Homo sapiens: one gene and its partner. The protein of the gene in region 2 interacts with the protein of the main gene of each other region in a pairwise test. Each region holds a gene or a part of one and is shown on either strand. Other genes may lie near its edges.

The links.
Region 1: the proteins of DOCK2 (region 2) and ELMO1 interact in a two-hybrid assay, tested with the Homo sapiens proteins (one study listed by BioGRID).

Annotation. Positions count from the first base shown.
Region 1 is NC_000007.14:37,442,044-37,445,864, forward strand, and holds part of ELMO1 (engulfment and cell motility protein 1), read right to left. Parts: intron 1-3,821. UniProt on the Homo sapiens protein: Involved in cytoskeletal rearrangements required for phagocytosis of apoptotic cells and cell motility. Acts in association with DOCK1 and CRK. Was initially proposed to be required in complex with DOCK1 to activate Rac Rho small GTPases.
Region 2 is NC_000005.10:169,709,966-169,713,786, reverse strand, and holds part of DOCK2 (dedicator of cytokinesis protein 2), read right to left. Parts: intron 1,853-3,821; coding exon 1,780-1,852; intron 1,668-1,779; coding exon 1,564-1,667; intron 1-1,563. UniProt on the Homo sapiens protein: Involved in cytoskeletal rearrangements required for lymphocyte migration in response of chemokines. Activates RAC1 and RAC2, but not CDC42, by functioning as a guanine nucleotide exchange factor (GEF), which exchanges bound GDP for free GTP.

The DNA of each region.
Region 1 (3,821 bases), on a different chromosome or scaffold from region 2:
TTGGGGACAGGAAAATTGATAGGACAATCTGCAATACCTGGAGACATCTGGGGTTGTCACAAACGACTAATGTACTGGCATTAGTGAACAGAGGCCAGGGAAGGCAGTAAACATTCGACAGTACACAGGACAGCCCTTACAACAAAGGATTATCCAGCCCGAAATGTCAATAGCACTGAGGCTGACACTGCCTGAAATAATGGGTCAGTAAAATGGCCAACAGCCTACAAGTAGAAAAAGAACCGTACAAGTAGCCTCAGCATCGCCCAAAGGAGAAACCATCACGGTCAAAGGACTCCAGTCTCTGGTTTTCTTAGTTGGTATGAATCTATCAACAAGAGAATTAGCAAAAGTTATGAGGAGCTGGAAAACACTGTCAAGTATATTCCCCTTCCAACTGGTTCCTTCCCAGGTGGTTCCATGCTTTTGCCTTCACCATGACTCATCCACAGAGGAAAAATGTTGGCTAAAGAATAAACGCCCATTCTTCTTGGCAAATACTGTTCTCATTTTTTATTAATAAATTGCATTCTAGCTCATATGCTTCAATATCATGAGGTTGGCTGATGGACATACTGTCCCTGAGAGAAGAATCCATTGACTCTCAAAACTAAGGTCAACTTTAGAATGAGATACCCAAAGAGAGGGATTGACTCTGAAGAACTAGGACTCAGTGGCAGCATTGACATCCCTGGATACCATGGCAACCCAGGGCACATCCATCTGCAGGACATACAGGAGTGAAGAGCCTCTCTGGACACCACTGCAGCATAGCTCCACATGGCATCCTGGCCTCAGAGGCTGGCAAGTCCAGTGAACCAACAAAAGAAGGAACTAACCAGTGCAGACATCATGGTGCAGGAGAAAGAAACAACGCAGTAAAACGAGTCAGAAAAGTTGGGTTTAAGGCTCAGATGCACTCTCTAAGTATGCTTGTGACATTTCATTCCTCCAAGCCACATCTGTAAAATGGGATAACAATACTATTCTGACTGTTCTCCATCATTTCCAAAACAGCATCCCCAGAGGAAGGGTGTGTCAGGCCACAGAGAAAAATGTCGCATTGATCCTATGACTCCACCTCCACTGAGAGAATGCTTTATAGGGCTTACCTGATTTTCATTCCCTCAAACCACCATTCCCTATCCAGAGTACAACCCACTGAACACATCTCAGTCCTTAGTCCAGCAAGTTGTGCCTCTCCAGTGTTTTCTACTGAGGAAAGTTTTGTTTTCTACCTTAACTGTTAGAACTAAAACAGTCAAAACTGTAGCCTCAATTCCTAAAATTGAAGTTCCAATAATAATTCTGTTCAGATTCTGGAAATCAGTGTTTGTGGGGGCCCGGAACACTGAGAATCGTCTCCTTCTATTTATACATGTGACTAATTTCTCGACTCAGCACTATGCCAGTTTGTTACTGTAGTTAATTCTGTTTGATGAGCTAGCATTCCTTCTCCCACACGTATTCCTATCTGATACTTAACTGTTCACCCCACCTTAGGCCAATGACCAAATTCTGCTCGTACCGTACCTGCACTTATATTGTAACAGGTTAGAAAATACAGCACTAAGACACAAGTAGTTAATGTAATCAGGAATCATGATATGGCTTTGCAGGCTTTAGTTCTGGCTAATATAGATAAGTTCCAATTGTTAACACTCAAACAACCCAAATTATCCAGGGAAATAAGCATTGCAACCAGTGTGTGCATTGTACATGCAGGCTGGCTTTGCTGAACCTAAAAATGCTGTGCTGGCATACTGGAAGGCTTTCATGGCCACACACATGGTCCTGGGAGCCACACCCTGTGGAATGACTGGCCTTCATGATCCTTTTATTATGGACAGTGCAGAAGTTCTCAGACTCTTTTTTTAAAGAGATGGGGTCTTTTTCTGTCCCCCAACCTGGAGCACCGTGGTGAGATCACAGCTCACTGCAGCCTCAGACTCCTGGACTCAAGCCATTCTCTTGCCTCAGCCTACCAAGTAGCTGGGACTACAGGTGCATGCCATCATACCCAGCTAATTTTTTAACTTTTGAGAGATGTGGTCTCGCTATGTTGCCCAGGCTGAGTTGTCAGCCTTTGACTTTCTTCTTTGGATAGCCAATCCAAGCCCAGGTCAGCTAAAATGCTTCACCTAATCATGCATCCCAGCAGTGTGGCTGCCTCCAGAAGAGATTACAACTGTCTTTGTAATTAGAATCATTCATGTGGGGAACACTAGATGTAAAATATGAAAGGAGAAGTTGAGCAGAGTAAATTTCCAAAGACCTCAAAAGTTCTAAACTAAAACTTGGTGAGAAAAGGGGATAGTCTGTCGATTTTATTCTAAGTAAGGTTAAAGAGTTATTGCAAAGGGAGCTACTGCCTTTCTGCATCACTAAAGTGAAAAGCATGTCACTTGAGTTTCTAGTTCCTCCAAGATGGCAGCATGAGGGCCTAGCGCACTGGCAAGTTCTACAAATAGTGGCATTTTTTTTTTTGAGATGGAGTCTTGCTCTGTCGCCCAGGCTGGAGTGCAGTGGCGCAATCTCAGCTCACTGTAAGCTCTGCCTCCCGGGTTCACTCAATTCTCCTACCTCAGCCTCCAGAGCAGCTGGGACTACAGGCACCCACTACCACGCCCGGCTAATTTTTTTTGTATTTTCAATAGAGACGGGGTTTCACCGCCTTAGCCAGGATGGTCTGGATCTCCTGACCTCGCAATCCACCCGCCTCGGACTCCCAAAGTGCTGGGATTAGAGGCGTGAGCCACCGCGCCCGGCCAATAGTAGCATTTTGAAAAGTTAAGTCAATAGCCGACAGAACTGCATCTGGTTCAACATTTGGAAATAGCATCTCCTGCAGGGGGTTAAACCAACAGTATTTTGTTAAAAGGAGATAGCTAAGTATTTCTTGTAGCCCTCTAGAACGTCGTCATCAGAATCCCTGGCAAGTTGGTTAAAAATGTAGTTTTCCCCAGAATTATTGAAACAGGCTTTTTAAAATCGTTACCTACACTGAGCAATACTTTGACATTAAGACTGGGTGTCTGTTTTATGAAATGCTGTTTTCCACACCACTCTTCTCTTTCACATTTTAAACTGCTGGTCTTGGCCTACTAAAGTGATATCATGATCCGCTCATGGGTTACAGCCGTAAGCTTAAAAAGCACTTCTCTGGTTGACTAGAAGGAACCAGAACTAAAGTTGCACAATTAGTAGCAAACACTCCAGGCTTTGTGATGCAGAGAGGGTTTCTTAATCCACCACGTTTTCCAGATTCAACAGAATGTCTTATAAACCAAACTATCTACTTGGATGGTTTCAGGCACCAAAAAGTGGTTACAAGCTTGAGTTACAAACCTTAATTGTATCCACTGTCTTAGATCTGGAAGGGAAATGTTACCTCCATAGGAATGATCACCTTTAACCCTTGAGCATTAGGCAACCTGATGAAGTAAGCACAGTGTGTGATCAGGTGAGCTCCTTGCCTCACCCCCAGCCACATCCTTCAGCAAAGGCTTCAAAGCCCTTTCCCCACCCGCCCCACCCACTCACACCAAACACCCAAAGGGGTTAAATTACTTTGAAACACTCAAGAGTTAGCTTCTTTTCAATATAGTAATTTAGTAAATGTTCAAGACTTAGCTGCACCTGCAGAACACCTTAATGTTTTCTCACTTTTATTTTTCTTCTCCTAGGCATTTCTCATCTCCCCTGCATCTGCCACACAGCCTCCCTTACAGCCTCCTGTCTTCACTTCCATATTGTAGGAGAGCAGAATGGGACACAGTAGATGCCTCTGACTTCAATCCCCTTACAATCATGCCCTTCCT
Region 2 (3,821 bases):
CATTAATGGCAAAATAAAAACGGAATTGAAAATTCCCAGACAGTACATTTTAATTCATCCTTTTTTTGAGACCATAATATCTGCTCACCAGCAAAATAAGGACTCTAGCTTAAAGAGGAATTTAATGGCAAAGGCACTAAGTAAGAGTGTGCTGGGATCTGGACCCTGTTTTGCCATTCACAGGTCTATGCTATCTTGAATACACTATTTTGCCTCTTTGTGTCTCATTTTTTTTTTCATTAGTAAACTGAAGACAATCATCATCCCTACTTCCTAGAATACCTGAGCAGATAATATGGAATAATGCATATAGAATACATAGCAGAGTGATACACACATAAATGAGTGGCATGTTAAAATGAATGACTAGAGGTAGGCATTACAGAAGATAACATTTATCTTACTCCGCACCAGGAGTGAAACCAAGTGTTTTATATGTCTTGGTTCATTTCATTTAAGCCTCATAACAAACATATGAAGCAGACACTGTTATTATCCTCAGTCAAGGAAACTGGGACCTAATGGGGGTAAGTAAAAGAAAATTGACTGCAACTAGGCCTCTGACCCCAAGGAGTTCACATTCTGTCAGGGAAGAAGGGCTTTCAAGCCAAGAATTCTATGTGTGATAAATGAGAAAACAGAGGCTGTACAGAAGAAAGGGGGTTTTCTGGAAAAGTCAGAGAGACTCAGAGAAGAGTACAAGAGTACTATGAGATGAAGCCTTGACGAGGCTGTGTTTGCCATGCATCCCACAGGCAAAAGGGCAATTTCAGCCTACAAGGCTAAGAAAGCCAAGGGCAAGGGTGTGATCCATGTGCTGGCTACTCAACCTTGCTCCACCTCACAGCCATACACTTGCCTCCAGCCAGGTGCTAGTAGATGCATTCTGTTGTCATAAGAGGACATGTGGAAAAGCAGCAGGTAAAAACCAGACAAATGCTCCTCCATGTCTCAAAAACAGTCCAAGTCTCATAATGTAAAAATAAAAATAGTGGACATCTGCACTCCCTTTATAGTTTAGATGGCCATTTTTCATGGGTCATCCTAGTGGGTTGTCATAAATATTGCCACAACTGCTTAAGAAAAAAGAAACTGAGACTCAGGAAAATATGTGAGATGAGTCCAGGCTTAGTCAGCAGCAGGATCAGGACTGCAGGTTTTAATATTTTCCCATTAGCTACAATGCAGCATCTCTCAAATGTTTATTGTACATCCTCTACACATGCCACAGAGGTCCCTACAGAGTCAAGAGTATATAACAGTCATTAACAATAACCTTTCTGTAAATAACAATAACCTTTTCCATGTATTGAGTTCTTCCATGTACTCATCATTGCTATGTTTACATCCACTGTCTCATAATTTTCACAAATATTCACTGAGGGCACAAAGATGAGGAAACAGAGGCCCAGAGAAGTCAAGAGTTTATAAGAGGCCACAAAGTTGGTAAACTCTGGTGTGTGTGATTCTGGGGTCCCTGCTGTTGACCACTAAGCAATTTTGCCATCACCCCCTTTCTTCCTGCACTCCCCTCAGTGCAGAGCTCCTTCCAACTCATGGTACCTTGAGGACAACTAAGTCATGGAATCCATCGTGTAGAGTAGTCCCATCTTCTTTCATCAGCTTCACATAGGACATGGCAAAGTTCTTTTCTCCTTTATCTTTAGCTGGAAATAGCATTGTGGGGTCAGGAAAGAAAATGATACATGGGCCACCCAGCTCTTCCATTCTTCTCCCCTTAGGGGGAGGTGCAGAGATGCCATTCAGTATGGTACTCACATTCCAGAGATGACCGATGTCGAAACATGAATCGCAGATGGATCCTCTGCATGTCTTCAATAGGGACAGCCACCTCAGCAGACAGAAACAGAGCTCAGAACACAATGAGTTAAAGGGCCCTCCCCACTGCACCCCCCTACACACTTCCACAGCAGCCTGACCATTTAACTGAGAGAGCTGCCTGCTGATTTACAACCCATCCATTGAGGCTGATGAACTGTAAATAAATTACAGAAGAACTAGCTATGAAGAGAAAATAAAGTACCAAATGTAATCCATTTGGCAAATTGCATTCCCAGCCAATGAAAAGAGGTCTGTAAATTATAGTGAGGAAAAATGAGTCTCCCCAAATTGATATAAAAGTCACATAACTTTAGCACAGGATTTGATGCACTGCAAACTGCACAATGCACATTTTCCTTACACACTCCAGGAGTTCTGGCAATTGCAGCAGGGCTTAGCAAATTAACAATGGTTGTTAGGGGGTTTGCTTGAGGAATCTCATTTATGCAAATTAATAAAAATGCTTTAATCCAATAATATTTGGAAAAATCCTAGGGCTCATCTCACCCTTGATCAGACACATGTCCAGATGTTTTTGATTCCAAGGACACTGAGCTAAGACAACAACCCACTGGTCACCCAGGCATCCCTGTCCAGTGAATGACCCACTGGTACCACTGATTGTGATGCTTTCAGCCTGGCTCTGTGCTGCCCACCTCCCAAAGTCTCACAGCTCCTCTGCAATCTGAGATTCAGGCCAATGCGGAGAAGGTTAGCTACCTGAGAGAAGGACACTGATTTTAAAAAGGAATACATTTGTACTGTACAGATGCCTATTAAACGCCAAAACAAATGTATACTTGGGGGCACTTTCTGTTGCAGAAAATGAGGCTTGAGCCTGAGGAGGTCCACCATCCTGTCTATGTTTCAGGCAGAGCAAAGGAACTGAGGGTCTCATGGGTAACTGCAGCCAATTCATTCTTTCCCTGAGTGTTGAATGTTCACTAGAAGCTACAATCATGTGGGGTGCTGGCCATGCTGATACAAGGCAGAGTCCTCACACTCAAAGAGCTCATTGTTCCGTGTTACACATGGGGCAATGTGTAACAGCCCTGTGACAAGGGCTAGCAAGGAGATACAACTGAGGTGCAAGAGAGAACAGAGAAGGGAAACCTGACCTGGTACATTAACTTTCTGACCACAGAGTTGACCGGGTCATCAATTCGAAGGCATTGGGTATGGGGAGACACACTGAGCAAAGTAATAATATGTGTAATAAGTGGAGAACCGCTGGGGTTTGAATAGCTCTCACTGAAAAGGAAGTCAAGTGTGCATCTTGTGTTTGGAGTCAGAGCCCGGGGGGAATAAAGAATGCTGCTAATGATAAGGCAGAGATATCTGAAGCTATGATCAAGCTGCAGTGTTCACTGAATTAATTCCAAATCCTTATTCCAATGCAGGTTATTCCTTTCTGCTTAGTGTGACGATCTGGTAATGTAATATTTGTAGTTAATGTCACTTCTGTCAAGGAATTATTCCAAAAGGGCATCTTTCAGGCATTATACAGCCTGTGATAGGCTCACATTGGCTTGCAAGCTCTGTCACTCCTCATTGCTGAGTAGAATGGTGCAGCTTGATGAACTGGGCACCACCCACAAGAGGACTATTTGACAATTCCACTTTGGTTACATCCTGCACCAAGGAAGGGTGATCAAGGGAACCAGGGTGCTCACCCACCTGGCCTCCATTTCCACTGGCTGACAATACCACCAGACACATGCTAGGGGGTCATTTCAGATTCAGAGAGGTGCCTCCAAGGACCCTAAGCTCTTACAGATGGTGACTTCTGCTATAAACTAGAGCTAAAGAAGTTTTTCTGTCACTCTATGTCCCTCCAGTATGTTCATGACTGGCCTCAGAATTGAGTTAGATATTTCATGAAGAGAAACATAATATATTCTCATATGTTGTTCACAATCACATTGATCCATCAAGCCTCCCACCTGCTTTGGCTAAAACAAAGAATTTCTAAAATATGT